Homo sapiens: one gene and its partners. The protein of the gene in region 1 interacts with the protein of each later gene in a biochemical or structural test. Each region holds a gene or a part of one and is shown in the gene's direction. Other genes may lie near its edges.

Evidence for each region.
Region 2: the proteins of RNF41 (region 1) and ZAP70 form a complex in vitro, tested with the Homo sapiens proteins (one study listed by BioGRID).
Region 3: the proteins of RNF41 (region 1) and CLEC9A form a complex in vitro, tested with the Homo sapiens proteins (one study listed by BioGRID).
Region 4: the proteins of RNF41 (region 1) and UBASH3B form a complex in vitro, tested with the Homo sapiens proteins (one study listed by BioGRID).

The regions. Positions count from the first base shown.
Region 1 is NC_000012.12:56,218,683-56,226,587, reverse strand, and holds the start of RNF41 (E3 ubiquitin-protein ligase NRDP1), read left to right. Parts: upstream 1-4,665; 5' UTR 4,666-4,828; intron 4,829-4,886; exon of another isoform or gene 4,887-4,997; intron 4,998-7,905. Other genes in the region: NABP2 (SOSS complex subunit B1), read right to left, coding at 169-232, 328-409, 893-964, 1,077-1,215, 1,653-1,806. UniProt on the Homo sapiens protein: Acts as E3 ubiquitin-protein ligase and regulates the degradation of target proteins. Polyubiquitinates MYD88. Negatively regulates MYD88-dependent production of pro-inflammatory cytokines.
Region 2 is NC_000002.12:97,709,134-97,716,624, forward strand, and holds the start of ZAP70 (tyrosine-protein kinase ZAP-70), read left to right. Parts: upstream 1-4,442; 5' UTR 4,443-4,541; intron 4,542-4,748; exon of another isoform or gene 4,749-4,782; 5' UTR 4,783-4,861; intron 4,862-7,491. UniProt on the Homo sapiens protein: Tyrosine kinase that plays an essential role in regulation of the adaptive immune response. Regulates motility, adhesion and cytokine expression of mature T-cells, as well as thymocyte development.
Region 3 is NC_000012.12:10,025,729-10,033,848, forward strand, and holds the start of CLEC9A (C-type lectin domain family 9 member A), read left to right. Parts: upstream 1-4,953; 5' UTR 4,954-5,244; intron 5,245-8,120. UniProt on the Homo sapiens protein: Functions as an endocytic receptor on a small subset of myeloid cells specialized for the uptake and processing of material from dead cells.
Region 4 is NC_000011.10:122,650,609-122,658,765, forward strand, and holds the start of UBASH3B (ubiquitin-associated and SH3 domain-containing protein B), read left to right. Parts: upstream 1-5,113; 5' UTR 5,114-5,441; coding exon 5,442-5,602; intron 5,603-8,157. UniProt on the Homo sapiens protein: Interferes with CBL-mediated down-regulation and degradation of receptor-type tyrosine kinases. Promotes accumulation of activated target receptors, such as T-cell receptors and EGFR, on the cell surface.

The DNA.
Region 1 (7,905 bases):
GTCTCAAAAAAAAAAAAAAAAAAAAAAAAAGGGGTCTGGGAGAATTGGGTGAAGGAGGATACACTGAGAAAAGAGAGATTTGGAAAAGGAATGAGGGAAATGCATCTTTCTAGGCTGAGGAGAGTGGGAGAGCTAGGAGGACCAGTGGATAGAAGGGAACAGATTTACCTGGAGAGGCAGCAGAGGGTCCAGTGGTAGGCTGGGAAGCTGAAGGGTTGCTGTCGTTCTGCACCTGAAGGCACAGATTACATATTCAGATCCTGCTCCCTCCCATGCTTCTTGTCTTGATCTGCCCTCCTTTCCCACCATTGTGGCCACAGGACTCACCGCCTTGTTGGGTGCCTGCTGGGTGCTGTACTCTGGGTTTGGCTCACTGAAGTTAGGAACCTCAGAATAAACCATACAGAATCTGCAAGGGAAGAAAGTAGCTAAAGCCTTGAATTCATCCTCTGGGCCACTGCTGGAGGCCTCAGAAAAGTCCAGATAGGTTCGGTGTGGTCACTCACACCTGTAATCCTAGCACTTTGGGAGGCAGAAGCGGGAGGATCACTTCAGCCCAGGAGTTTGGGACCAGCCTGGGCAACATGGCGAAACCCCATCCCTATAAAAAATACAAAAAAATTAGCTGGGTGTGGTGAAGCACGCCTGTAGTCTCAGCTACTTGGGAGGCTGATGTGGGAGGATCACCTGACCCCGGGAGGTCAAGGCTACAGTGAGCCCAGATCATGCCACTGTACTCCAGCCTGAGCGACAGAGACTGTTTCTCAAAACAAACAAACAAACAAACAGAAAAAGTCCAGAAATGAGGCTTGGACTGCACACCCTATGCTGCCTCCTTGCAAACCCCTTTGCCCTGGTGCTTCTTCATCCCAATCCCCAAGACAGCACTTACTCTCCAATCTTCTGCAGATCACCCCCACGGCCAGTATATAGTGTCAGACAACCTTTGAAAACTGAAGCGTACCTATGGGAGGCAAAAAAAGCAAAATTCAGTACTCAGAAGTGTTATAGGGACTGTTAACCCCACTCTTGATTGTTGTTGCCTTTGGAAGGCCAGAAGTCACCAGCTGACTTACCCTTTGGTGAGCCGGATAATGTCCCCAGGCTGGATCAGATTGCCAACATCGTCCCAGACAGAGATATTGATGCTGCCTGTTTTGTCCGCCACTTTGCAGGTCCGAACCTCATGCCCGTCCTTTGTCTTGGTCACTCGGCCTGAACGGAACAGATAAATCGAGGTGGGAGGATGGTCAAATAAATGGAGTGGTATCTCTCAGAAGGATGAGATGTGGATATTGGTGGAATGAGGGAAAAGGTGTACAAACAGGGGAAAGCCCAAATCCCTGGGGCATAAAGGGTTGGGATTGTGGAAGGGGTGGTGGAGGGTGGAGGTGGGAGTTCAGGGGCCAGCACCATGGAGAGGGCCCTGAGTGGAAAGAGGCCCGCGTCGCACAGGAGGTCTAGATCTGGCAAGAGTTCTATCTACCCTATACCTGACTGCAACTTTCTGTCCCAGGGTCGAAGAGATTGGGAGTGAGGAGTGTCTTGCAGCTTGCCTTGCCATCCCCATAGCAAGTTAAGAACGCAGACAGCGTTCTTCCCCTCCTGCCCCCGACCCCCATCCCGCGAACCCGCCACCCCAGTATAGACACCTGTCTCCAGCACAATGAAGATAAGGTTCAGATTCTTGAGCCCAGGCTTGATATCCTTCACAAAGGTCTCCGTCGTCATGCTGCCTGAGCCTCGGCACCCCACTGGATGGGGAATAGAGGATGAAGGCTCAATGCTTGGATCCTTTGCCCCCATGCTCCACTTCCCAAGGCCTACCTACCCCATTAGGCTGGGGTCAGGCAGCCTCAACCCCTCTAACCCTTCTAAAAGATTAAAAAAGAACATCCCCGGAGGCCTCCAACTTCAGGATCAGAATTTGGGGGTCTCTGGACAGGCTGCTTTGGGGCTGGAAGGCCCCCTGCCGGGATGCTCTTTTAGTCTCAAGCCGCGAAGTGGCGGAGCCGACGTAGACAGGGGTAGGGAACCCGGTGCACAGCCAGGGAGTAGAATCTTACTGGCCAGATCTTCCGGAACCCTCATCCCGACAAGCCGGGACTCGGTCCATCCCCTCCCCTACCCGCAGCCCACCACCCACCCAAGCCAGCCGGCAGGACTGTGCACGCCGCTGAGCAGCCCGCAGGGGGAGCCACAGGCTCCGCTGCCGCCGGATGCTGCCCCGTGGAACGCGGGAGTGCGGACATTCCCGGAAGTTTCCCCCGGCTGGCCTCCTCCGGCCAATCAGCACCGCCCGGGCGCGCCCTGCGTCCCGCCGCCTGCCCTGCCCAGCCAATCGGGATCAGAGACTCGTGCGCCGCGAAGGGGGCGAATTTCAGGTATTAAAGGAACCTTGGAGATAGTTGGCTCTGTAGGGGGAAAAATCCACCACTAGAAGGCGCACAGGGCCCCCAGTTTTCCTTAACTTGGCTAGGGAGAATGCACTTAGGTTCTAAGACGTTTCTTTCCAAAGAGTGACACAATGGGAAAAGGAGCAAGGGCTTCGGAATCTGGCGGACAAAAGTTTGAATCCTGGCTCAATGCTTCACTTCATTTCTCGACTATTTAAACATATGTAATTCCAATTCCGCAAGGCGCGGTGGCTCACGCCTGTAATCCCAGCACGTAGGGAGGCATAGGCTGGAGGATAGCATGAGTCCAGGAGTTCCAGACCTGCCTGGGCAATATAACGAGACCCCATTCTCCACAAAAAGGGAAAAAAAGACAAAAAATATGTAATTCCATCTTACGAGAAAACGGAAGTTATATTTAAAAAAGTGCCTTGCACACAGTAGGCACACACGGTTTCCTCCCTTTTTATTGCTCTAACCGTTATCTTTGTTCCTGATTTGGGGTTCTCATCTTTAATGCACTACCCAGCTTGGTCAAGGTCTCTGGGAAAAGTGGCATTTACACCAGAGACAAAAGGCAGGCTCACCCTTCTTGGAAGAAATGGAACCTGCGACAAAGAGAGAAACATTGTTAGTCCCTTTTTTTTTTTTTTTTGAAACAGGGTCTCGCTGTGTAACCCAGGCTGGAGTGTAGTGGTGCAATCTTGGCTTACTGCAACCTCCCACCACAGCCTCCGTAGTAGCTGGTACTACAGGTTCGCACTACCACCCTCGGCTAATTTCTGTATTTTTTTTGTAGAGACAGTTTCGCCATGTTTCCCAGGCTGGTCTCGGACTCATGACCTCAAGGGATCCGCCCACCTCGTCCTCCCAAAGTGCTAGGATTACAGGCGTGAGCCGCTGCACCTGGCCATACTACTCTTCCCCGCCCCGCCCCACCGCTCCACCCCGGCAAAGGAGTCTTGCTCTGTCGCCCAGGTTGGAGTGCAGTGGCGCGATCTCGGCTCACTGCAATGCAACCTCTGCCTCCCGGGTTCAAGCGATTCTCCTGTCTCAGCCTCCCGAGTAGCTGGGATTACAGGCGCCCGCCACCACGCCCGGCTACTTTTTTTGTATTTTTAGTAGAGACGGGGTTTCACCACGTTGGCCAGCCTGGGCTCAAACTCCTGACCTCGTGATCCACCAGCCTCGGTCTCCCAAAGTGTTGGGATTAAAGGCATGAACCACCGCGCCCGGCCATACTACTCTTATCTTACTTATCTCAGAGTCCCGCTAGAAGACAGCAGAAAGGAGGCCTGAAACTTTAGTTCCTTTTGGGACCTGTCAAATTGTCCACAAAAGGTAGCTAGCTCTGTATTGTTGTGTATAAACAAATTACATAAAGATATGTGTGTATGTGTGTATTAATGTGCATTAGCATTTGCTTAGCCAATGTCCACAATAAATACCATACTATTTAATACCAGATTAGTCTAGGAAGTCATGTGATTGTAATGCCTTGGTTTGCTTAATTAATCCCTTATCTGCTCACGGAGCTCTTTAGGCTCCACATTGACTTCCCTTGGATCCCACGTTCTCTACCGCCCACATCCCCAACACCACGGTGTTGTAAGCTAAGGAAATCAAACCCCAACTCAGGAAGAGGGAAATTTTTTCTCCCTTCCTTCCTCTTAGGTGTTTCAGGGAACTCCACAAGTGTTCGGGGAGCCATCGTGGATACGGCAGGAGAGCGCCTGGGAGAGAGGCAGACAACCCGTTGAGCACCCCAGATCTAAGCTTTGCGGTCAGACTCCCTCACTCCCCACCCCGCGGCCGCCTTGTTAACTGCAATATCCATTCCCATGACAGGAGTCAAGGGGTTACGAAGCTCTGGGATGCTGACCAGGGCTCTGGAAAAGGGAGAGGGGCCGGACCCGCAGCAGGTCACGCTGCAGGCCTGCCTCTCCGCAATGATCTCGCAACAATCTGCGTCAGCTCTAAGACACAAGTCACCTGCACCCCTCCAAAGCGAAGCGTGGCCGGCCAGGCCCACACGTTTTTGCCGGGAAGAACATAGAGTTCTCCCTCCTAAATGGCTACATAGTCCTGGCTGGGACCATATAGACTCTAGACTAGACTTCCTGTCTAGAGTGGAGGCCTGGCCAGCCTTCGTCCCTCCTCGTAGGCAGCTCCTGGCTGCTGGTGTAGGGGCTGAGTTAAACAAAGAGGCGGGGTTTGGTGACGAGCTTCCGCCGGGTTGCGTAGCAGCGGTGGGCGGGGCAAAGGATCCGTCTGAGGCGGCGACGAGTGGTAGGAGTCTTCTTTCCCCTCCTTCCCCTTTCCCTTCCCTTCCCGGGAGAGGCTGGGACCCGGCACCAGGGCAGTACTGTGGCCGCTGCGGCCTCAGCTCCGACTGGGTCAGGTTGCGGAGACTCCAGGCCGCTTCCAGGGCGGTGCGTACTGCGCCTGCGCGATCTTCCACCTAAAAGAGGGTGTGGGAGGGGAGGAGGTGATGTCCCAGGGGTATTGGGGCGGGGGGTTGAAATAACTGGGGTTCAGGAGGAGGGATGGTGGTAGAGATAAAAATGTGAGAAGGGAGCAGCACTGGCGAGGAGTCGGGAGGTGAGAAGGGGGCTCTGGAGAACGGGTTGTTGGGGAAGGTCCATTGGAATAGGGGAGCTTTGAGAAGTGCGGGAGGGGGCCGGGGCTAGCTGGAGGACCGGCACCTGCAGAACTGGGGGAACAGCGTGGTGTTTAAATGGGCAATGATTGACGGGCCAGAAGGGGAGGAAGGGAGCATTCCGGGGGCCAGCCTGGGCAGGGGCGGTGGAACCTAAACCCCCGCCCTCGAAGCGCCATAGCTTGGCTCCTCTCCCATGCCTTGTCGTTGGCAGCCTTGTCCTCTCATTCCTTCCCCGCTCCTCACCCCCTCCCAGCCCTCCATGAAGGAATCTCACATTCTTCACATCCCTGCGCTTGGTTTGCAGCCTGGCTCTCTGGCAGGGTTCACACACCACACACTGGAAGGCCTTCCCTAACTCAGGACTTTGGGAAATTGGGTAGTGGGGAGGAGGGGGCTAGAGGAAGAGCAGAAAGCCAGGAGGGGTGAAGGCGTTTTGCTTGAGGGATTGACAGACTGCTTCCCCGTTCAGAAACTTCATTTCATTTAATAGCAAGTGGGGCTGTTATTGAGGCCACTGTTCTTGGGGACTGGCCCGTGATAGTGTTATCCCTTTCTATACAGGGGTTTTAGAGTCTGACAATAGGGCAAGAGACTGATAGTGTTGTTGGCTGATAGTTTTGCCCCAAATAAGAATGTAGTGGACTAGTGGTAGGGAATGTGAGTGATGCAATGTTAAGCCGACCGACCTGTGGCTAGCCCTGCCTTCTAGTAAAAAGAAGGAACAAGCTTTTGTCAAGCATTTCCTCTCCGACTCTCAGTACTCTAAATTTATTTTGCATTCTTGTTTTTTTTTTTTTTTGAAACGGAGTCTCACTCTGTCACCCACGCTGGAGTGCAGTGGCACAATCTCGGCTCAGTGCCACCTCTTTCTGGGTTCAAGCGATTCTCCTGCCTCAGCCTCTTGAATAGCTGGGATTACAGGTACCTGCCACCATGCCTGGCTAATTTTTTGTATTTTTAGTTGAGATGGGGTTTCACCATGTTGGCCAGGCTGGTCTCAAACCTCTGACTGTAGCCGGGCGCGGTGGCTCACGCCTGTAATCCTAGCACTTTGGGAGGACGAGGCGGGCGGATTGCCTGAGCTCAAAAGTTCGAGACCAGCCTGGGCAACACAGTGAAACCCCGTCTCTACTAAAAATATAAAAAATTAGCCGGGGCATGGCTGCATGCACCTGTAGTCCCAGCTACTTGGGAAGCTGAGGCAGGAGAATTGCTTGAACCCAGGAGGCAGAGGTTGCAGTGAGCTGAGATTCCACCACTGAACTCCAACCTGGGCAACAGAGTGAGACTCTGTCTCCCCACACCCCCCGCCAAAAAAAACAAAACAAAACCCTGACCTCAGGTGATTGGTCCATCTCGGCTTCCCAAAGTGCTAGGATTACAGGCATGAGCCACTGCACCCAGCCTTATTTTGTATTCTGTTGCTACAAATAATCTTACTTGAGGATAACAGTATTCAGTATCCTTTCATATTTATTTATTTATTTATTTATTTATTTATTTATTTATTTTTGAGACAGGGTCTCACTCTGTCACCCAGGCCGGAGTGCGGTGCTGCGATCTCTGCTCACTGCAACCTCTGCCTCCTCGGCTCAGTTGACCTTCCCCCTTCAGCCTCCTCAGTAGCCGGGACTACAGGCACTCACGCCATCATGCCCGGCTAATTTTTGTATTTTTTGTAGAGACAAGGTTTCACTATGTTGCCCAGGCTGGTCTCAAACTCTTGGACTCAGGTGATCCACTCACTTCGGCCTCCCAAAGTGCTGGGATTACGGGTGTGAGCCACTGCGTCCAGCCTCCTTTCGTATTTATTATTTCATTTGATTTGCAGACAGTATGTATAAGGGGTGCGCGCGTGTATATACACATATATACACACACACACATATATACACCTTATATTACGCCGGGCGCAGTGGCTCACGCCTGTAATCCCAGCACTTTGGGAGGCCAAAGGTGGTGGATCATATGAGGCCAGTTTGAGACCAGCCTGGCCAACATGTTGAAACCCTGTCTCTACTAAAATATAAAAATTGGCTGGGCGCGGTGGCTCACGCCTGTAATCCCAGCACTTTGGGAGGCCGAGGCAGGCAGATCACGAGGTCAGGAGATCAAGATCATCCTGGCTAACGTGGTGAAACCCTGTCTCTACTAAAAATAAAAAAAAAAAATTAGCTGGGCGTCCTGGCGGGCGCCTGTAGTCCCAGCTACTTGGGAGGCTGGGGCAGGAGAATGGTGTGAACCTGGGAGGCGGAACTTGTAGTGAGCCGAGATCGCATCACTGCACTCCAGCCTGGGTGACAGAGCCAGACTCCGTCTCAAAAAAAAAATAAATAAATAAATAAATAAAATAAAAATTAGCCTGGCATGGTGACACATGCCTGTGATCCCAGCTACTCAGGAGGCTGAGGCAGGAGAATTGTTTGAACCTGGGAAGTGGAGGTTGGAGTGAGCTGAGGAGATTGCATCACTGCACTCCATCCTGAGCGACAGAGGAAGACTCCATCTCAAAAAAAAAAAGAAAAATAGGCCAAGCATGGTGGCTCACGCCTATAATCCCAGCACTTTGGGAGGCCGAGGCGGGCGGATCACAAGGTCAGGAGATTGAGACCATCCTGGCCAACATGGTGAAACCCCGTCTCTACTAAAAATACAAAAATTAGCTCAGCATGGTGGCACATGCCTGTAGTCCCAGCTACTTGGGAGGATGAGGCAGGAGAATCGCTTGAACCCGGGAGGCAGAGGTTGCAGTGAGCCAAGATCGTGCCACTGTACTCCAGCCTGGCGACAGAGCAACACTTTGTCTCAAAAAAAAAATAACATATATATATATAATAAATATGTATA
Region 2 (7,491 bases), on another chromosome or scaffold:
ATGACACAGTCCTGCTTAAGACCTTTGCTGGGAATGCTCTTCCCCCAATATCTCCGTATCTCCGTGGCTCTCTCCTACATCTCCTTCAAGTCTTTTTTTTTTTTTTTTTTTTTTTTTTTTTTTTTTTGTGAGACGGAGTCTCACTCTGTCACCCAGGCTGGAGTGCAGTGGCGCAATTTCAGCTCACTGCAGGCTCCGTCTCCTGGGTTCACGCCATTCTCCTGCCTCAGCCTCCCGAGTAGCTGGGACTACAGGCGCCCGCCACCACGCCCGGCTAATTTTTTGTATTTTTAGTAGAGACGGAGTTTCACCGTTAGCCAGGATGGTCTCGATCTCCTGACCTTGTGATCTGCCTGCCTCAGCCTCCCAAAGTGCTGGGATTACAGGCGTGAGCCACCTTCAAGTCTTGATTCACAGGTTATCCCCTCCGAGGCATGCCCTGACTGGCTCAAAATTACATGCTCAAGACCTCGCCTACCCTTTCTGATTTATTTTACTCCTTAGCACCTGTAACCATGTGACATACTCTATGAAATATTTATCTATTTTGTTCATTCTCTGTCTCTCCCACTAGAATGTCAGCTCCATGAGGGAAGAGATTTTCATGTGCTGTTCACTGCGGATCCATAGAACAGAGTACCCGGAAAAGAGTCTGGCATAGAACGGGTGTTCAGTATTGAATAAATAAGTAGCCAGGGGTCTCAGGAGGTGGCAGTGCCATGGCAGTTTGAAGGCTTCCGAAGGAGCCATCCACTTGAGAAGCCCCCAGGGGAGAGCACAGCATGTGGCTGCTGTGGTCAAGCAATTCTTTTCTGACTTAAACCAGCTGGATTAATTTTTTTTATTTCAGGGCAGGGCGGTGGTCACTTTCAGCCTTCAGGGACGCCTGAGTTGTGCTTGGCAGCCTGCAATACTGGAGAGCTGCCCCTGGAGGGCGCAAGGGAATCCCGTTGCTGCACTCGGACGCGCAGTCACTAGACATGAGAGATGACGGTGGTGGTAGCAGTAATGGAGCATTTGCCTTTAGGCCTCTTTTAACTTTCACAACAGCCTACAAGACAGGTACCATTATCCCCGTTTCCTAAGGGAGGAAACCAAGGCGCAGAGAGGCTAAGTAACGTGCTCACGGTCCCTCAGGGTTAAGTGGCAGAACCAGAAAAGAACCAGAAGGAAAGGAGATACAAGTCACCATTTTTGGCCTGGCGCGGTGGCTCACGCCTGTAATCCCAGCACTTTGGGAGGCCGAGACGGGTGGATCACGAGGTCAGGAGATCGAGACCATCCTGGCTAACGGTGAAACTCCGTCTCTACTAAAAATACAAAAAATTAGCCGGGCGCGGTGGCGGGCGCCTGTGGTCCCAGCTGCTTGGGAGGCTGAGGGAGGAGAACGGCGTGAACCCGGGAGGCGGAGCTTGCAGTGAGCCGAGATAGCGCCACTGCAGTCCGGCCTGTGTGAAAGAGCGAGACTCCGTCTCAAAAAAAAAAAAAAAAAAAGTCACCATTTTTCTGTACACCCAGAGGGAATCCAGGAGGGGCCCTGGATGGACCTGTTTCCTTTGGGGCTCATTGCACTGGGGTGTATCTCCTCTCGGGCCTGCTGGAGCCTCCACCCTATCTCCCTGCTGCACGTCTCCCAGCAGTGGCTTGTGTTCTCTTAACTGTGCAGCCAGATTGGACCTGCTCAGCTCCAGGTGAAATGGACAGAAAGCCCATCCCTGCCCGGTCTGAGGATTGGGAAGCCTTCCTGGAGGAAAACACGCTTAATTGGAGACCTGAAAGAGGACTAGGAAATAGGCAGGTGAAGAGGTGTGGGCAAAGACCTGAGGATATGGGGGTGACTGATGAATTTCTTCGAGGCTCTTGGCATGAGTAGAGTGAATGTTTACCCCAACCCGATGAGGCAAAGGCACCGCAACTTTCCTAGCCCACATTTCCATCCGTTTGCCCTTTACTGTAAACATTCAAAAGATGCATCCACCTCCTTCCACTCTGGCAGAACAGAGGACCTTATCTGCATGCCAATCTCGGATTATCTGTAGCCCAATCTCAGAGCTGTCTGAGCACTGGGCTTTGTAGTTTCCAGACCAGCCTCTGGGACAGGAAGTGGGGGGCTCAAGGGTTGTAGGGCCAGTGCCTTGCAGAGGCTGGGAATCCCCTTCTCAGGACCTGAAGACCCTGGAAACTGGAAGCCCCCCACCCACACAGAGGCACCCTGTCCCATAGCTGGCTCAGCTTCCAGCTCCCTGGGGCGCTGGCCTCCTTCGGGGAGATATTTTACAACCAAAGTTTTCTTCTTTTATGTCCAGCAGCACGTGGGTGGGGTCAGGCTGCCTGGGCTGCAATCCCACCTGGCCACTTGGCATCTCTTAACCTCTCTGGGCTTTACTTACCTTATCTGGAAAATAGGTTGAATGGCTTATTAATTGTGATGTGCGTACAGCAATGTCTGGCACATAATCAGTGCGACTCTCATTATTGTAGTATGAATGTGATTTGATGCTGTAATTTCTCCTCTCTTCAGGGTGCCGGTGTCTTTTTCTCTCAATACTCCAAGAAATGAGCGTCCAGCATGGATGTGAAGGGATGCTTGCTGCACCTGGAGTTTCAAGATGCCGCTGGGGAAAAGGGAGGCTGCTAGCAAACACCATTTTGGAGGGGGCTGTATGAAGGAGAAAAGTAGCCTAGAGCCGGAACTCAGATTTTCTAAAGGGGATTCAGGCGGCCAGAGGATAGTAGAGGGCCAGAAAGGAGGTCCCCAAGGAGGCTTCGGGGTAGGGTGTGAGGGGATCCTCAGGCAGACTGGGGAGCTGAGCCTGTTGTAACCGAGCGAGTTACAGAGAAACGCCGCACTTTGAGACGAATTCAGGGGTCCTTTATTAGCTGGCGACTGAGAGACAGCTAGTGCTCAAAATTCTCTCAGCCCCAAAGAAGGGGCTTGATTTTCTTTTATACTTTGGTTTAGAAAGGACAGGTGGGGGTCTAAAACAATCTTACAGAAGTAAAGCAGGCAAAAAGTTAAAAGGATAAATGGTTACGGGAAAGCAAACAGTTCCAGGTGCAGGGGCTTAAAATCTATCACAAGGTGATAGACACGGGGCTTTGGGCGTTATCAACCGGACACAAACGCCGGGGCTCTGGGTGCTATTAACCGGGCGAATTCCTGGGAACTGCGGATATAGCTTGCCACAGTATCTTATCAGTTAATTGCATTCTTGGATGTGCTGGGAGTCAGCTTGCACAAATTAAGTCCTTGAGGAAGCGGGGTGGGTAAGGGGCTGCAAATGAAAGAGCCAAGATGGAGTCTGTCTGGCTCTCTTAGCTAAGGGAGAGTCAATTCAGGTTAAAACAAGGTAGGGTATCACAAGCCCACTTAACAAGGGCAGCAGGACCCCAAGAAGAAAAGCTTTAGGAGTCTCCACAGTGGGCCCAGGGCAGTTCCACACAGGTCTCTGAGGCCCCACAGACAGGAGAGCTGTGACGACTCCCTTAGTGCCCAAGAAAGCAAGGAGGTGGTGGGCAAGGGGCTCCCAGAGGCCTTGGGGCACTAGAGGGGAGATGGAGCCGAGGGAGTGGCTCTGCAGGCCCCTCTCTGAGAGAGTGCATGAGGTGTGGCCCCAGGCCCAAGGGTAGGGGGTGCACAGGGTGAGGGAAGGGAGGAGAGGAAGAGGAGGAGGAGGTGGTGGCCACAGCGGGATGGCACTCAGCCAGGTTCAGCTTCGTGGGAAAGGTCCCAGGTGGGCCGGGCTAGCACTGGGGATGCCCTGGCTCTGTGTCTCGGTTGGGTGGCTGACTCCTCCTGGAACGCATCCCTGACATCCTCCAGGCTGGCTTGGGGATACTCTGGGGACACACAGTGCCCAGGCTTCCGGCCTCCCAGCCCTGGCTCCCTGTGGACTCAGCTGCCCCCAACAAGCCTGCGAGCCACTGGAGAGCAAGGGCAGGCTGTCCTTGCCATCCAGATGCCTGGCACAGAAGGGGTTCTCACCTTCGGGGTATGGGCTGACTCAGTGGGTTTCTCCTCCCTCCAGCTCTAACCTGCCTGTGGAATAAACAAATCACTCCTCTGGGTTGTCTAGCTGGTGCAGGCCCCAGGGCGACGCCCCTTTGAGGGGAAAATGGGGGCATTCCAGTTTCCATGAGCCCTGGGACTCCCCTCCTTCCCACCACTGCTGCCTACCCTCCGGTTCCAGGTATGCAGGCTTCCTCCCTTCTGACGGTTCCTGCTGCTGGAGTCGTCCTTCCTGAAACCCTGCCTTTGCTTAGCCTCATTCCCATCTCTCAGTCCCATCCTGCAGCTGGGCAGGCAGTGCTGGGCCCCGGAAATGCCCTCTGCCTCCCTGGAGCACGTGGCCTGTGATTTTCCTTGAGCACAGCACTTTGTGACTTTGATGTAAACATCAAACACAGCCCCCTTTCCTGTCTTCGCATCCAGGAAATAGGTTAGTTTCAGACAAGCCTGCTTGCCGGAGCTCAGCAGACACCAGGCCTTCCGGGCAGGCCTGGCCCACCGTGGGCCTCAGAGCTGCTGCTGGGGCATTCAGGTAAGCGGCTGTCCTCGGGCCTTCTGCCTGTGTCCTGCCACCAGGGCCACCCCAGGGGGCTCTGGGAGACCTGGCAGAGGATGAACCCCCCCCATCCATGAGTGAGAAACCCTGGCGGGGTGTGACATCCTCCCCCGGGGTGTGTGCGGAGAGTGTGAGCGGCAGGGCCTCCCTCTCAGGCTGGGGGCTTGGGCTGCAGGGAAATCCAAACCGGCTTTGTAAGCCCCGATTCCTCACCCAGAACCGGCTCTCCATTGGCATTGGGACCAGAGACCCCGCAAGTGGCCTGTTTGCCTGGACATCCACCTGTACGTCCCCAGGTAAGTGGTGCCTGGGTGGAGTGGCACCTGGCCACCGTCTCCATGGTGGGCTGTGTCTGGAGGAGGAAGACAGAATATTAACTGGGAGTCAGGAGGTTGCTGGGAGGACCAGGAGAGCTGGAGGACTGGGCTGGGTGGTGACTGGCTGGAGATGGAGGCAGACGGGGCTTGTGGCCACGCTGAGGGAAGCAGCTCCCCCTCCAGAGGCTTGGCCGAGCGGGGCTGTTCAGGGGACACGGTGAGGCCTGCTCAGTCCCTGGGCTCCTGCTGGGCCCTGTTTGGCTGCATCCTTGGCTCTCGGAGGCAGAGAAACCTCCAGAGAAAGCGCATGTGCACTCTGTGAAGATGAGGGGGCTGCTCACCAGGGCCGTGAGCTCCATCAGCAGAATGCTGTGATTCCTGTGAGGAGTCCAGGGCAGGCTTGAGCCACTTGTAGGCGAGCTCAGGTTAGAGGAAGACCTGGAGAGAGAAAGAGCAAAACACCGAGTTCTCCTCAACTGCTGTGTGTTCTCGGCAAGTTGCTTGGCCTCTCTGACCTCAGTTTGTGCATCTGTTAAATGCACATGCAGATATGGGCACCTGGCAGGCGCCTGGTTCCTGACTGTTGGCGAGAGGCTGGGAAATGTGTCCCAGGTAGGAAGCATCCCCGACAGGAAGGAACAGGAGTTCATGAGGTGAGCAGCTCGAGATGATTCATTACTCTCGTCTTGGTTGGAACAGTAGGCAGACAGGAGGTGTTTAATAATGCCTTGCTGAGAGATCAGGGTCAGGGACTCCTAAGGTGCCACCTGTGAAGCTGCCTCCTGCTGAATCCAGAGCTTCCTTTTCCTCTTCACACCTGCCCTCCATCCTCAGCCCCACTGCCCTGGCAGTGTTGCGGGGGTGGTGTTGATGTGCACACTCTGGAGCCTGGGGGCCTGGCTTCACATTCTGGCTCTGCCACTCACCAGCTGTGTGACTGGACCAGTCACCGCATCTCTCTGTGCTTCCCTCCCAGGGCTCTCGGGAGGATAAAGAGAGTGACTGTATCCACACTGCCCGGCACATACAGGTGCTGCAGAAAGGTCTCACTAAAACCCTCATTATCCTCACTAGCTCTGGGTGGCCTCGGGCTCTGGACTCCACAGTTCCTGTATGCTCTCCGGGGCTGCAGCACCCAGACCACCCCGTGCTGACCACTCCCTGCCCCACCCCAAGGTACAGGGTTAAGGCAGCCATTCTCATCAGAGCCAATTTTACCTCCTCCCGTCTCCCTGGGACAGTTGATAGTGCCTGGAGACAGTTTGGGTTGTGACCCAGCGGGTGTTACTGGCATCCAGCATGTCCAGGACAGGAATCCTGTGAACAGCCTACAAGGCCCAGGACAGTCCCACCCTGTTCCATTGTCTCTATCAGCCCCTATCCTCCTGACTCACACCGCCTTTTCCCATCTCCCTTTTACAGTCACAGAGCCTGAGGCCCAGAGAGGGACCGCTGCTTGCTGAGGTCACACAGGCAGTGGAGGCCGGAGTTGGGGGCCTCACTGGAGGGGCGGTGGAAGGGCATTGTTCAATCAACAGACACTTGGAGAGTGTGCTGGGTTGGGGAATCTGACCCTGACCCCGCACCAGCCCAGCTCTCCAGGGTCTCCTAATAGACATTTGCTGGAGTGGTTAGTGCTGGCTGCTGCATTGGACAGACCTGAGTTCAAATCCTGGTGGCCCCTTGCAGGCTGCATGTTCTGAGAGTGACATTGACCTCTCCGAGCCTCAGTTTCTTTAGCTGAGGAGTGGGATAACAGTTCCCACCAAATGTAGTTGTGGTGAGAATTAGAATAAATGGCTAATGCTCGCAAAGGGTAGTGCAGTCCCCAGCACAGAGGCTGTTGTGATTGTCCTTACACACTTGACAAATATTTGTGGGGAGGAAGCAGGAGCTTCCATAGAAAACAAGACAGAGCCGTGGGCCCTGCCTCGGGGAGCTCAGCCTGGTGAGGGACTGAGGAGCAGAGACAGAGGCCATCAGGGCTGTGATGTGGGAGGATGGGGACCCTGGAAGCCTAGGGGAGGTGCCTGACCCAGGCTGGGGAGGGGGCAGGGCTCATGGAATGCTTCTGGGAGGATGGGACAACGGAGGAGGCCTGAAGCCGGAGGCCCAGTAGAAGGATGCAGCGCAGTTCTGGGCTGAGGGAATAGCCTGTGGCCAGGATCCTCAGGATGGGCCCCTCCTCTCCCGCCATCCTCCACCCAAGGAAGCCCCTGTGGCCCCTCACCCCTTCCCAGGTGTCAGGTTCCACCGGTGCTCAGAGGCATCCCCACCCATCCCAGTGGACTGCAGACCTTTGTAGGTACCTGGTATATTGAGCACCTCCTCTGTGCCATGCTGGTATAGGTAGGAGAACAAGACAAAGGCTCCACTCCCGTGGTGCTTACATTCTGGCAGGGACAAAGGTACTATGTCACCAATAGATACAATATCATCTTTTAGGTGGTGAAGAACAACAAAGCTGGGTCAGGGCTAGAGAGAGAAGGAGAGGCTATTTTGGAGAGGGAGGTCAGGGAAGGCCTCCTGGAGGAGGTGACTTAGGCAGAGACCTGAATAAAGTGGAAGGTGTTGGAGGAAGAGTCTCCAGGCAGAGGGAACAGACAGTA
Region 3 (8,120 bases), about 46 Mb from region 1:
TATGTTTATTGCAGCACTGTACACAATAGCCAACACACGAAAGCAACCTCAATGTCCATTGACATGTGAATAGAATAAAAATAAAATGTGGCATATTCATTTTATTAATTTAAACTATTTGTTTCTAAGAACTTTATATTTTAGGTTGTTAGTTAGAAATGAACAAAATAAACGCTTTTATTGCTCTATGAAAGCTTGATTCCTCAGATCTAGGCCCCCATTTGTGGTATATTGCACATTTGAATTTATCATAGGAGCAAAAGAAAGTTGTATATGTTGCAGGCTATGTTTACATGACTATGTTACAGAATTAACATTTATCTTTATTTCTTTCCTATATTCCTGTTAGAAGACAATAGGATTATAATTCAGTTGACAGAAATGTAGCTTATGGCAGTCCTTAAGTCTGTGTCTTAACTTTGGGAATTTTGGAGGCTGGTGAAGTATAAGTATAGCTTTTCCTCTGGCTCTTTTGCTAGAAGAGAAAGCAGACTTTAAGAGAAAATTATTGCAGCACTATTTACAATAGCAAAACTTTGGAACCAACCCAAATGTCCACCAATGGTAGACTGGGTAAAGAAAATGTGGCACATATACACCATGGAATACTATGCAGCCATAAAAAAGAATAAGTTCATGTCCTTTGCAGGGACATGGACGAAGCTGGAAACTATCATTCTCAGCAAACTAACACAGGAACTGAAAAGCAAACACTGCATATTCTCACTCATAAGTGGGAGTTGAACAATGAGAATACATGGACACAGGGAGGGGAACATCACACACTGGGGCCTGTTGAGGGGATGAGGGGCAAGGGGAGGGAGAGCATTAGGACAAATACCTAATGCATGCGGGGCTTAAAACCTAGATGACAGGTTGATAGGTGCAGCAAACCACCATGGCACATGTATACCTATGTAACAAACCTGCAGGTTCTGCACATGTATCCCAGGACTTAAAGTAAATAAAAAATTTAAAAAGAGAAAATTATAGATTCGCATAGCTGATATGGTTTGGCTGTGTCCCCATCCAAATCTCATCTTGAATTATAGCTCCCAGAATCTCCACGTGTCATGGGAAGGACCTGGTGAGAGGTAATAGAATCATGGGGGCGAGTTTTTTCTGTGCTGTTCTCCTGATAGTGAATAAGTCTCATGAGTTCTGATGGTTTTACAAAGGAGAGTTCCCCTGCCACCATGCAAGACATGACTTTGCTTCTCCTTTGCCTTCCACCATGATTGTGAGGCCTCCCCAGCCATGTGGAACTGTGAGTCAATTAAACCTCTTTCCTTTATAAATTATCCAGTCTCGGGTATGTCTTTCTAAGCAGCATGAGAACAGACTAATACAGTAGACAAAAAAAAAACCTACATTTTTAATCATAAAAGGAATGGAAATTACCAAAAAATGTCTCCTAAGGGATATAAGGGCATGCTGGTTATAAGAATTCTAACAGGAATTCCAACTCATTTTTTAAAATGAGTAATTTTTAATTTTCTAGTAATGCATATTTCAGTACATGCATTTTCCCAGTATTTGAAATTGCATAGACCTCACTTAATAATAGACCAGAACTTATAAATTTAGTCTTAGGTAGTTTGTAAGAGATGTAAACTAGTATCATACCAGGTATTATAATCCTGGCAAAAAAATAAGCTTACTGTATTCCAATCACTTTCATTATAGATCATCTGTATGAGGTTACCTCTAGGTAATCAGAGGGCTAAATAGGAAATTCATTCCATGGAAGCAAATCATTGTGGTTAAGGGCACAGATCATGCAATAAAACTGCCTGCCTGCCTGCCTGCCTGCCTTCCCTCCCTCCCTCCCTCCCTTCCTCCTTCCTTCTTTCCTTCCGTTTCTTTCTGTCCCTCTCTCCCTGTCTCCTCTCTCTCCCTTTCTCTTTTTCCCCATCTCGCTGTCTCTCTCTGTCTCTCTTTCTCTCTCTCTCTCTCCCCCGCTCTCTCTCCTTCTCTCCCTCTCTCTCTCTCCTCTTTCCCTCTCTCTATCTCGGATCACTTGGTAAACACCAAGACAAAAACCTGCCAAAAGAAAAAGGAATAGCTCACCACAATTTTCTAAGAACTTGACACACATCAGGGAAGAGATTGTGCCATCTTATAACAGTCACAATTTCCTAAGACTCTGACACAGTCAGAGGATTATGCCATCTTCCCACACTCACAGTTGGATATGCCATGTGATAACCCCAGCCAGGAAGGAGACAACAGTGAGACACAAGGTTCTGTAGAAGACAAAAGCAGAACATAAGCCAAATCGTCCATGATGCTGCCTCCTGGAGTTGACTTGACCATGATGAAATGTAACCGAAATTGACAATATTCCATGACACCACCACGGCTTCTGTGCTGTGGATGGACATTGAAAAAAAATGCACAAGTTAGGAAGTTGTTTTCTTATCCTGCCTTTTCCTCTGCCTCCAAACTCTATTAAATCCAATATAAATAAAAATCTCATTAAGTGTTTACTTTTTAAAGCTTCTTCCCCGGATCAGTCGTACATTCTCTTCTTTCAGCATACTTTTCATTTACCTAGACTGAAAATTTGATTCCCTAATGAAACGTGCTCTCCTAAAACTTTCCAAAGTATTGCATTTGATTGTCAGAATTGTCAGAAGGCAGGTGAGTTGTTGTGTAAACCTTAACTTTATACAATAACAATGTATCCACCTTAGAACAATTATAAATTCAAGATACGATGTATTTTTTAAATTATTCTCTTTTTTGGTTTATATTTTATTTTCTTCTTCTTGTACACTATTATTTCCCTAGATTCTCTTTTCCAGAATGATGTGTTAGATTTGGAATTCAATAATGAAAGACAAAAATAAGTATTTAAATGAGGAAGTATATATTTCCTCTGTCTCTTTTTGTTATCCTATTCAATATGCAAAACCAGGCTGTGTGATCTAAATCAAGTTTCTTATCCTCTAAAGCCTAGGTTTCATATCTAAAAATTAGGAATGATATTACCAGACTTGTAAGGCTGTTGTTTGCACACAAAGGAAGAATTAAATGTGATCATTTATAGACTCGCCTGAGAGCATAGTATTTTATTATTAGGTACTCAATAATTTTTTTAACTTACCCTTACCTTCTCACCTCACCTCTGTAAATTTTAACAAAAGACAGGAGACCTGCATATTTACCAATTCCTTATTCTCTATATTGAGTAAGGTAGAAATTTTAGAGATCCTCTAAAAATTTTTATCCTTGCTGTCTTGCCATGTTATGGATTCCTGAATTATTTTATATTACTGGTCTTTTGCTCCATTGCCACCTTTCAGGACAGGGCTTACATCCATTATCTGAAAAGCCAGACGTATATATTAATTATCTTGATTTCTTTATATTAAATATGGACCATTTAATGCAATGTTTGAGTTAGTCTTACAAATATCTCATTTCCTCCCATGTTCACAATAGCCAAAATATGAAAACAAGCTAAATGTTCATTTCATTGATGAACAAGTGGATAAAGAAAACATAGTGTGTGTGTGTGTGTGTGTGTATATATATATATATATATATATATATATATATATATATATATATACAAGAAAAAACTTTCCACAAGAACCTCCATGTCCTCATTTAGAATTTAATTTAATTTTTTACCTCACACACCTCTTTTTTTTTTTTTTTACTTCCACTTGACACCTTTCTGGGGTAATAGGTATGTTGTACCTGAATTCCACTCTCCCTCAAAATATCTGTCTCAAATTTGTATATACATTAGTAGGTATCAATCAGGAAGGTCTCCCTCAACCCATTCAATAGGCCCTGCCACAAAATTTGAAAAGTTTAAAAAATTCAGAGCCCTGCTTATGTACATGGGTGTACATTTTTGCAGACAAAAATCCCCTGTGCCCTACCTACTCAGCAATCTTCCCCCTTCCTATCAATCTTCCTCTTCCCCTGAATCATTGGTCACAACTGATCTCTTTGTTTTCTTTGTCTTGGTTTTTCTCGAATGTCATATAGCTAGGATAATATGATAGCTTTTCAAACCGGCTTCTTTCACGTAGTAATATGCATTTAAGATTCCTCCATGTTTTTCATAGTTTGACAACATTTCATTTTGTTGTCGAATGATACTCCATTGCATGAATGTACCACAGTTTGTTTATCCACTCATCTTTTGAAAGACATCATAATTACTTCTAATGTCTGGCAATTATGAATAAAGCTCCTGTGAAAATGTGTGTGCCAGTTTTTGTGTGTGTTGGGAGCAAGCCCCCCAAAATCCGGCCATAAACTGGCCCCAAAACTGGCCATAAACAAAATCTCTGCAGCACTGTGACATGTTCATGATGGCCCTAACACCCATGCTGGAAGGTGGTGGGTTTACGGGAATGAGGGCAAGGAGCAGCTGGCCCGCCCAGGGTGGAAAACCACTTAAAGACATTCTTAAGCCACAAACAATAGCATGAGCAATTTATGCCTTAAGGGCATGTTCCCGCTGCAGTTAACTAGCCCAACCTATTTCTTTAATTCGGCCCATCCCTTTGTTTCCCATAAGGGATACTTTCAGTTAACCTAATATCTACAGAAACCATGCTAATGACTGGCTTGCTGCTAATAAATACGTGGGTAAATCTCTGTTCGGGGCTCTCGGCTGTGAAGGCTGTGAGACCCCTCATTTCCCACTTCACACCTCTATATTTCTGTGTGTGTCTTTAATTCCTCTAGCGCCTCTGGGTTAGGGTCTCCCAGACCGAGCTGGTCTCAGCAGTGTGTACAGGTTTTCCACTTTCTATGGTTCCTAGATTGTCTGTTAATACTATACTTACCTCTATAAGAAACTGTCAAGTTTACCGGGCCGCGAGGGTGCAGGCTGCGCAGATGGTGTGGTCCTGCGCCCCGAGGGCCGCAGCAGCTCATCCGGCAGCTCCCACCCCAACAACCTGGAAGGGGGCGGGACTTCCGTTTGTACCCGGCTGTGGCAATCTGTGGTGAAGTTGAAATGCTTTTCTGCTAGACTGGCAACATGTTTTGATTCTTCTCAAATAACTCGCAAGCTCTTGTGAAGCACAACGGCCTACCTTGTCCTGAAGAAAACATACTCTAAGGCCCACAGATGATTAAACCCAGCCATTTATGTGACAATAGCATTTTTATTTTTCTTATCAAGATCTGGGTATTTGATCCACACAATGGTAAAGATTCCCATGTTAGCCAAGATCTAAATGATTCAAACTGATGATACTCTCTGCAGAAGAGGTAAGAACCACTGGCAGTAGGGTGGAAGGTATGTCATTACAGATGATGCTGACAGAGAAGGTCATCTGAACCTACTTTATAAGAAAGGCATGATTAAAGGAGAAAGGGGAAAGGGCATTCTAGGTTAGGAAAGATTCTGAAGAAATGTAAAATAATATGAAGGTGTGAGCTGATATATTTAAGAAATAATGAATGATATGTGGGAGTATGTATCATCTGCAGAGATGGATGAGGGAAGATGCAAGTGGAGGGGAAGGCTGGAGCCGCTGGTGGAAAGACGTTAAGTGTATTTCAATGGCCTGATACTGCAGGCAGTAGACAGCCTCTGTAAATCAGGTAGCTTCCTTACTCTTGCTCCTACTGATCCCTCAGTCTAAAATGCCCTCTGCACTTTCTCTTTAGAGATAGAGAGGGAAAGGGAGTCAAACACGAAATCTCCAGGAGGCCATCCCTGGTTATTTCTTACTCCTCTGTTGATTTCCTTTAATCTGTGAAGTGTCTTCTAACTCGTGGCCTGAGGCTTTAGTGACTCTGCTGACTCATTGTCTGGTGCTACTGATTGTGCTAATGGTCTTCGATATTGTGTCCAGTGCCCCCCACCATTTTGGGAAGAAATTGGCTTTAGTTTTTACTCAGATTGAAATTTTATTTAGAAACGGGAGTAGCAAGACCAGGTGCAGTTAGTTACACCTGTAATCCCAGCATTTTGGAAGGCCAAGGTGGGAGGATTGCTTGAAGCCAGGAGGTTGAGAAATGGGAGTAGCAACCAATGTCGGTAGAAGAAACAGCATATAATAACAGGATGTGATAAATCTCAAGAAAAGTTACGCACAAATTACTATGGCAGCAGGAACGAGTGAGCCGCCCGATGCTGTCAGTGAAGGCTCTGAGGATTGGGAAGGATTGGCAGGGTTACAGGAGACAAACAAATGCTACAAATAACATTCCAAGTAGAAGGGGAAGTGAGGGTAGGGAAAGGAATGCAGACAAGGCTGAGCCTTGTTTGGAGAGCTAAGTTCAGTGTTGCAGATGCTCAATGTCATACCTTAGGAGGGAATTGCAAATTAAAACAACAATGAGAAACCACTGTATACTATTTGAATGACTAAAATCCAAAATACTCACAACATCCAATGCTGGCAAGGATGTGGAGCAACAGGAGCATTCATTCACCGCTGGTGAGAGGTAAAAAGGCATAGCCACTTTGGAAGGCAGTGTGGCAGTTTCTTACAGAGCTAAGTATAATATTAACATACAATCTAGCAACCATAGACGCAGGACAAGAACTCGGGCAAAGACGCCACAGCCACACAGGTTTCTGAACAGAAAATCAACATCCCAAAGATCCCGTAACATAATCTATGCTCAATCTCCATCTGTATATTAAAATCCATCCACCTACCTCCTTAGGGATTTCTTTTTTTTTTTTTTTTTTTGAGACGGAGTCTCGCTTTGTCACCCAGGCTGGACTGCAGTGGCGCAATCTCGGCTCACTGCAATCTCCGCCTCCCGGGTTCACGCCATTCTTCCGCCTCAGCCTCTCGAGTAGCTGGGACTAAAGGCACCCGCCACCAAGCCTGGCTAATTTTTTTTTATTTTTAGTAGAGATGGGGTTTCACCGTGTTAGCCAGGATGGTCTCGATCTCCTAACCTCGTGATCCGCCCGCTTCGGCCTCCCAACGAGCTGGGATTACAGGTGTGAGCCACCGCGCCCGGCCAATAGGGATTTCAAGCTTGTAATTTTCTTTCTTTGGTTCGCTCTGGCACTATCAATTTCTTTTCATCTCCACTTGTTCACTCACCTTCACCTCCCAACATGGTATAATATCTCCTATGTTAAAAACAAGCAAAAGCCATCTTTTGTTTACCATGCCCCCATACACACGATTCTAATTTTCTTATATTTCTTCTTAACATTTCTCTAATTTTCTTGACAACAAAAATGTTCAAAAATCTCTCTGTGCTTACTGTTTCATCCTACTTTTCCTTTATGTTAATTAGGCTTTTTCCTTCACTATTTCTATGAAAACACTCCAGTCAAAGTCACCATTAACCTCCACATGAACACATCTAATGGCTAGTTCTCAGAATTCATCTCACGCACCAGATAAGCATTCAAAAAAAAAAAAGATTATTCCCTTTTCATAACATACATTCTTCTCTAAAATACAGTGTTCCCTAGGACACCGTTCTCTTCAATTTCCTTTTGCTTCATTCACAACCCAATCCTCCCTCAGATTTGGATTCCTCCTTAAATTAATTTAAAATGTTGTTGTGTCCCAGAATTCAGTTCTTGGTCCTCTTGTTTTTTTTTTAATTTATCCTGGGATGAACTAAATTGGATAGTACCCATAGAATGGCCAGAATGGGAATTAATCTCTTGTAACCTCATGACTTAATAGCCATACATTGATAATGTCCAAAATTATATTTCCATACCATTGCTTGATCTCCAGAACCACATATCTGACTGGATTCTTGGCATATTGACTTTGATATATTTTAGGATTTTTTAACTTAACACATCAAAAAATGAGTGACTCTTCCCAATGAGTTTCTCCATCTCGATAAATGAATATTCCATACCTACGGTTCCTCTGCCAAAAACTTGGAATCACCTTTGACTTTTCTTGCTGCTCTCACATGAATTAAACATGTCAGAAAATATTGTTCACCTTGGAAAATATGGAAGCACAGTTATTAATTATGGAAGTATTGTTGATTGAGAATACCTTAAAAGAAATGCTGAGTTAACATGATAGGAGGATTCATTCTCACTCTGTTCTTTAACAGTCTTTCCATTCTCACATCTTATGCCTGTTTCAGAGGACACTTTTAAAGTGGGGCCTAAATTGGATAGTACCCAGAGAATGGCC
Region 4 (8,157 bases), on another chromosome or scaffold:
CTGGGCTCCAGGGATCCTCCTGCTTTGATTTCCCAAAGTGATGGGATTAGAGGCATGAGTCACCACATCTAGCCTAAATTTACATTTAAAAACGTCTATTCATCTGGGAGAGGTGGTTCACCTGCCTTTAATCCCAGCATCTTGGGAGGCTGAGAGGAAGGCAGAAGGATCACTTGAGGCCAGGAGGTAGAGACCAGCCTGGGCAATATAGCAAGACCTTGTCTCTACCCAAAACAAAACAAGTCTATTCAAAATGAGATCTTGGGACCAGGTGTGGTGGCTCATGCCTATAATCCCAGCACTTTGAAGGGTTGAGGCAGGAGAATCAGTTGAGTCCAGGAGTCCAAGACCAGCCTGGGCAACACAGCAAGACCTCATCTCTCCAAAAAAAAAAAAAGAAGCTGGGCATGGTGGGACACACCTGTAGTCCCAGTTACTCAAGAGGTTGAGGTGGGAGGATAGTTTGAGCCCAAGTTGAGACCACTGCACTCCAGCTTGGGTGACAGAGCAAGACCCTGAAAAACACAAAGCAAAACAAACAAAACAAAAGAAAAAAAAAGGAAAGAAAAAAACACTTAAAAAAATTAGATCTTGGCCATGCCCTGTGGCTCATGCCTATAATCCCAGCACTTTGGGAGGCTGAGGCGGGCAGATCACTTGAGGTTGGGAGTTCGAGACCAGCCTGGCCAACATGGTGAAACCCTGTCTCTACTAAAAATGCAATAATTAGCTGGGCGTGATGGCACATGCTTGTAATCCCAGCTACTTGGGAGGCTGAGGCAGGAGAATTGCTTGAACCCGGGAGGCAGAGATTGCAATGAGCTGAGATCGTGACACTACACTCCAGCCTGGGTGACAGGGAGAGACTCCGTTTCAAAACAAACAAACAAAACAAAAAACAAAAAAACTCCCAACATATAAAGCTGATAGACTTACAATGAAAGAAAAGAGGATACCACACTACCCTCTTAATCCTCAGTTGGGTGACCCCAACCCCTGTCCCTCAAAGTTCCTGGGGGTCCCTTGACAAAATCCTAGCGATCCCCAGGCTAAGCTAATCCCCTCATTTGGCAAGCAAGGAAGTTGAGGCCCAGAGAGGGGCAGCACATGGTTTCAAAATCTTCTGACCACGAAGGATCCCCTTAAAGTCTAGGGGTGAAAGTCATTCCCAGCAGTTCCAAAGCTGCCTTTGTTTGGCAAGGCAACACCCCAGCCTTTAGGATTTGAAACAGTGGGCAGACTTTACTGCCTGTTTTTGTTGTTGTTGTTATTTGTTTGTTTTTTTGTTTTGTTTTGTTTTGGGACGGAGTCTCGCTCGGTTGCCTAGGATGGAGTGCAGTGGCGGGCGTGACCTCAGCTCACTGCAGCCTCTGCCTCCCAGGTTCAAGCCATTCTCTGTCTCAGCCTCCCGAGTAGCTGGGATTACAAGCACCTGCCACCACACCTGGCTAATTTGTTTGTATGTTTAGTAGAGACAGGGTTTCACCATCTTGGCCAGGTTGGTCTTGAACTCCTGACCTCGCGATGCACCCGCCTCGGTCTCCCGAAGTGCTGGGATTACAGGCATGAGCCACCGCGCCAGGCCTTGTTTGTTTTTTTTAACAGGGTCTCACTTTGTCACTCAGGCTGGAGTGCAATGGTGCCATCTCAGCTTGGCTCACTGCAACCTCGACCTCCCAAGTTCAAGCAATCCTCCTGCCTCAGCCCTCCAAGCAGCTGGGACTACAGGCACACACCACCATGCTGGGCTAATTTTTATATTTTTAATTAAGATGGGGTTCACCATTTTGCCCAGGTTGGTCTCAAACTCCTGAGCTCAAGCAATCTGCCCACCTGCCTTAGCCTCCCAAAGTACTAGAATTACAGACCTACTGCATGTTCTTATTGTTATTACTTGACCGTTCCTCAAGGACAGAGTGAAGGAGAAGGAGAAGATATAGGACATGCTTCAGAAATTGTGAGTGCAGCCAACTGGGTCCATCCTGGGTCTCCCTCTGGCCATCTGAGAGGATGTACCATAGCAAAAATATGGCAGGGGCCAATGAGGGAGGGTTAAACATGCTCACATGAACAAAGAGAGCTTTGTGGTCCAGAGTGGATTCTGACATGACCACACACGGAGACATGTCAACTTGCTTTCCCTTCTGAGGGAGGAACTTCATGCTGATGTGTCAGCTCTGTCCCTGTGCAAGACCCCTACTCCCATCTCACTTCTTTTGGCCACTGTAAGATATACTGCCAGATGAATAGTCATTTCTCTTCTCTCAATTTATTTATTTGTTTAGAGATGGAGTCTTGCTCTGTCACCAGGCTGGAGTGCAATGGCATGATCTCAGCTCACTGCAACCTCCGCCTTCCAGGTTCAAGCGATTCTCCTGCCTTAGCCTCCGGAGTGGCTGGGACTACAGTCACATGCCACCATGCCCAGCTAATTTTTGTATTTTTAGTAGAGATTGGGTTTCACCTTGTTGGCCAGGATGGTCTCGATCTCTTGACCTTGTGATTCGCCCACCTCAGCCTCCCAAAGTGCTGGGATTACAGGGGTGAGCCACCGCACCCAGCCCCCCTCTTCTCTCTTTGTAATAGAACAGTGTAGACATTTATGAAGCTTTTCCTAGCTTTTCAACGTCAACACAATTAAAGCACAATGCATCTGAATTGCCAGCCCCCCAACCCAGTGCAGAACAAATGGCAGGAGTCCTAAATAAAACAGGGGTTTGCACTGAGCTGAAGACAAGTGAGGAAGCCAAGCTGGGATTTCTGTAAAAGTGTCCCAGACAAAAACAGTTTGCATCTCAGGTGCCTAGTTTTTCATAGTGCTTTTTCCAGTCTACCTAAAACTATTTTTATATGCATCATTTCCTTTATCTTACAGTTTGCCTAAAGGCAGGGAGAAAGACAATTAATTCAATTTTTCTGGAGAAACAGAGATCCAGCAATTCTATGTCAAGGGGCATAGATGGAGTCAAAAAACTATCTTAAAGGCTGGTGTCCTTTTATCATCATAACAATGGTCGTTAACTAGTTGTTTGGCCAAATGTTAAGAGTTCAAATCTTGGCTCTGCCATTTACTAGCCATGTGACCTTGGACAAGATACTTGACCTCTGGCTCAGCACCTTCATTTGTAAAGTAGTTCCTAGTTCATAGTCTTGTCAAGGAATTGTTTGAGTCACATATGTAAGAAGCAAAGAACAACACCAGCATATAGTAAGTACTCAATAAATTTGAGTTATCATTTATGTAGCGCTTTATGGTTTACAAAGCGCTTTCACATACATTATTATCTCTTGACTAAGATCCAGATCATTTGACTTTCAGCCCAGGCATTTGGAAACAATTCAGAATACTGGATAAAATCCAGCATGTTTTACCGAACACATCCAAGGAGGCTAATACTAGGTATGGTGTTGCCAGCCCAGTCTTGTCTTTTTGCTCCATGTCCTGGAAGAGCATTCTGCAAGGTCTCCAGGATATCCCCTTTGCTCTGGAAGCAGCTACTACCCAGGAAGCATTAATTTTCCCTCATCCTTTGTACAGCAGGAGGCAGAATTAATACACATTGTTGCTTAAGCTCCAGCTGTCTTATCTCCCTGCTTCCAAACACCACTGGCTATTCTTTAGGAAACCAATTCCGGGCTCAGGGAGTTACACTGTATCATTTCCCCTGGTAAAACCTTCACAGGCCTTATAAAGCAACCTCAAAAAGCCACTCCATGGGTGCTGGTCACCATCCCTCCCCCATATTCCAACCAGGGACAGGCCCGGACTGACATTTCTGGAAAACCCAGTGTGTGCAAGGTTAGGTTACCACGGTCCATACCAATGAGGAAATTAGGCTGTAGAGAGAAGTAACTTGTCTAAGGCACCGCAGTGGATACGAGTGCTGTAGCTACGCACTTACCAGCTCTATGATCTTCCCCAACCTCTCTGAGCTGAGTTTTCTCATCTGTAAAACTGGGATAATGATTAAACACACTCCTAGGGTCAGTATAAAACTTCAGTGAGTTCATTCATTACGATTAGCACAATGACTGGCACATACAAGAGCCCAATAAATGTTAGGTTTTATTATTATTATTACCCAAAAAAGACTATCAGTTAGGGTGTACTCATTGCCTCTTTCATTATAGCAAGTGGGACCCTTGTCCCTGACTGAAGACAATGACTTTGTTTCCAAACGAAAGAGGGTTAGCATCCCCCAGCCAAATTCACCAGGTGGGGCATGGGGCATCAATATGGTTGTGGCTTCCACCATCTTTGCAGTGGGAGTAGTTTTGTCCAGCCTATGATACAATTCACTTATTATTGTGCAGTGGTGATTCGGTCCGTCTTTGAATCCTTTTATTGACAGGATATCCACTCCCTAATGAAATAAGCCCGTTCCCTTTTGAACACCTCTTATAATTAGGAAGTATGTTTTCTCTGTTCCTTCTTCCTCTACCCTCCTAGCCCTTCCTTCTTCTCCTCCTCCTTCCTCCTTTCTTTTTCCCTTCCCTCTTCTTTCTGCCCTGTCCCTCTTTTCTTGTCCCCTCCCAGGTCCTGCCACCTCTGAGAACCTGAGGTCCTTCTCCCCAACCCCTCTGCCCCACCGGGAAGGCACTATTCAGTCACTGACCATAACCTTGTAGAGCGCAGTAGGTCTTTAGTGCAGCCACTTGGCCGGCTGATTGGGAACTCAACTTCCGATGGTCCTAACAACCCTTTGGGTTTTGCAGGATCTTTGAGAAGCAAAACCTTTTACCTAGGCCTTACGGCTTGGCCTTCTGGTCCATTAGTATCATCCACCAGTTCACCCAATTTCCATTAATAACCGCATCTAGAATCACATGAAACTTGAGATGGGTTGATCTCCTGTCTTGAGGCCCAGCTGGGCGGGTATGCCAGCCAAGGAGAGGGCTGGGGCGCCGGGGGTGACTCTCGGGAGGTGAAGCACACAAGCAGCCCATAAGGTTGGGATCCTCCGTCTCCAAGTAGCGCGACTACAGCTCTTGCCCGCACGGAGCAGCCTCGGACAGCGCGGCCGCTTTAAGAGAGGGGCGGGGCCCGGGTACAGGCAAGTCAGGGCCAGCCCACAAGGCTCCTTTTCCTTTTTGATCCATTCAAAAATTACTCATTGCAAATTCCCGGACTGCTAGGCGAGGAGAGGGAAGGGGGCGGAGGAGACAGGGCTACTGCAGGCGCAGAGCTGGGGGCAGCCGGGGGCCCGAGTGGCTGAGGCTGGTCCCGCAGCGGCCGCTTGCCGGCGTTCTGGCTCCTGTGGCCTCACCAGGAAGCGTCAGAGTCCCGACACTGGGGAAGCTCGGAGCGCCGCCTCCGCTGCCGCCGCCTCCTGCCTGGCTCTGGGTCCCCGAGCCCCCTCCCCTGGCCCAGCCCGACTCCCTCCTCCTTCCCGAACCATCCGGCTCGGGCTCCTTCCCTGGCGATGGCTGGCCGCTGAGCCATGGCTCAGTACGGCCACCCCAGTCCGCTCGGCATGGCTGCGAGAGAGGAGCTGTACAGCAAAGTCACCCCCCGGAGGAACCGCCAACAGCGCCCCGGCACCATCAAGCATGGATCGGCGCTGGACGTGCTCCTCTCCATGGGGTTCCCCAGAGCCCGCGCGTAAGTGGCCGGGCTCGCAGCCCTCGGCGACCCCTCCCGCGCGCGCGGCCGGCCCTCGGCTTCGCTCCGGCTCGCCTCCCAGCGCCTGCGGGACAGGCAGCGCGCTCCCCGCTGCCCGAGACCTGTTGGGGGCGGGATGGGCGCGCTGGCAACCCGGGACTCGGCTCCGGGCGGGGGTGCGGGGGAAGACGCGGCGCGGGGGCGTTGGGCCAGGGCTCGCCGTGGGATGCCTAAAGCTGGGGGACGAGGGCGCGGGGTTCGAGTCCCGGGTATAGTGCTCAGCCTCCGCCCCAGCCGGGTGGAGCTCAGCGTTTCTCTCGCGCGCTCCCCTAGGTCTCCAGCGCCGAGCGCCTAGGGAGGCGGGGCCCTGCGGAGGACTCGGGCACCCTCTCCGTCTGGAATACTGGGCTGGTCTGGGATCCTCCGGTGTCTGGGAAAGGGCGGGAGACTGCGGGGCAGGGAGGCCGGCGCCCCCGTTGCAGCGGCTTCCAGCTCCGGATGTCGCTCTCGGGTTCGGTCTCCCCCTGGAGTAGGAGGAGCGGGAGCGTGGGTGTTCCTGCGTGTTCATTGATGGGGAGGATGGAATCAGAAGGAGAAGCGATCCCTCCAGGGGACCTGGGTTCTCGTCAGTGGTGACGGCAGCTCAGAAATCTGTGGGTGCCTGAGAGTAAGGAGGGGGAGCTGTTCTTCATCCTTCCTCTAGGAGAGTGGGGTAGGGGAGGGCAGGGAGAGCGCAGGTGGCTGCCCCTGGAGCCTGCTGGGGAGAGGCCTGTTTGCCAGCATAGGGTGGCGGCGGCCGGAGTCGTCTCAGGCCGGTCGGCTCAAGTCTCAGGGGCTGGAACTCTGCCTAAGAGGAAGCCAAGGCCCAGCGGCCAGGCCCTTCTCCCCTGGTTAATCCCTGCCGTGCAGATTTCTTAGGTGGGGACACAAGGCCTGGCGTCCGGACTGGGCGCAGCTTCTTTTCATCTTTGAATTACAGCACCTGAACAGGAGAGTTGGCCAAACTTAATCAGTGAGGGCCAAGTAAATGAAAGTCCTTTTTATTTTTTTCCCTTCTCACATTTTTTTTTCAGGTGATAACTTTATTTATGTATTTATTTTTCTGAGACGGAGTCTCGCTGTGTCGCCAGGCTAGAGTGCAGTGGCGCAATCTCTGTAACTTCCGCCTCCCAGGTTCAAGCGATTCTCCCACCTTAGCCTCCTGAGTAGCTGGGACCATAGACATGCGCCACCACACCGGGCTAATTTTTATATTTTTAGAAGAGATGGGGTTCTGCCATGTTGGCCAGGCTGGTCTCGAACTCCTGACCTCAGGTGATCCACCCACCTCGGTCTCCCAAAGTGCTGGGATTACAGGCAATAACTTTATGTCTCCCCTCCCTTATCTCTGGGCAAACCTTGTTTATTCTCTACTAACTTGGTTGTAATCTGTTAATCAAAGTAGACCCTTGAATTTGTTATTCTCCAGGCTGCTGGGACACGTTGGAGTGGCCTTAGAAGGCTGCAAAATGGACTGATGGTTTCTGCCTTCCACTGACGTCCCAATACGACTTCCTAATACTAGGGCTCCAGTTCCTGATACCAGAATTACAGGGAGAAAATGTGGGTTCTGCAGGGGTGTGTCAGGTGTGGACGCTTCAGGTGAAGTCGTCGGTGTGGATGATCAATGTGCACAGCTCTCCTTAAAAACTGGAGGTGGGGCTGGGTGTAACCCCAGCAGTTTGGGAGGCTGAGGCAGCCGGATCACTTGAGATCAGAAGTTTGAGACCAGCCTGGCCAACATGGTGAAACCCTGTCTTTACTAAAAATACAAAAATTAGCTGGGTGGGGTGGTGCATGCCTGTAATCCCAGCTACTTGGGAGGCTGAGATAAGAGAATCGCTTGAGCCCAGTAGGTGGAGGTTGTAGTGAGCCAAGATCGCACCACTGCACTCTAGCCTGGGTTACAGAGCGAGACTTCATCTCAAGAAAAAAAAAAAAAAAAAGCTGGAGGTGGGAGTGGGGAAGTCAGCTGGGGAATGCTGCAGAATTAGCATAGTCTCAGGCTACTGCCTTTTTTGAAATAAGGCCAGCATTAAAAACCTAAATTGCTTAATTAAGGGAAGAAATACTTAACTGAACTCCTCAGTCATATTTGAGATTCAAATTCAAATCAGCTTTAAAGGGACATCTTTTCTCCTGCTCTGAGTCCAGGAGGTCTTGACATGTCTTGACAGATTAGCATAAGGGTCATTTTTGGCTTGTTTAACCCCTGAGGTCTCCTAATAGCTAGCATGTATTGAATACTTACTCCATACTGTTCTAAGTACTTATATCTTTATTACCCATTTTATCCTCCTAGCAACTCAATGAGGAAGGTACCACATGCCCATTTTATGAATTGGGCAACTGAGGTTTAGAAGGGTTGCATAACTTGCTCAAGGTCACAACAGTAAGCAGTGAAGCTGGGATTCAAACCCAGGTATTCTATCTGCACAGCCCAGGCCTCACACCATCTAGGGCCAGTAGGGCCAGGATAGAAATGATTGAATGTGGGTAAAATGCTTAGAACAGTT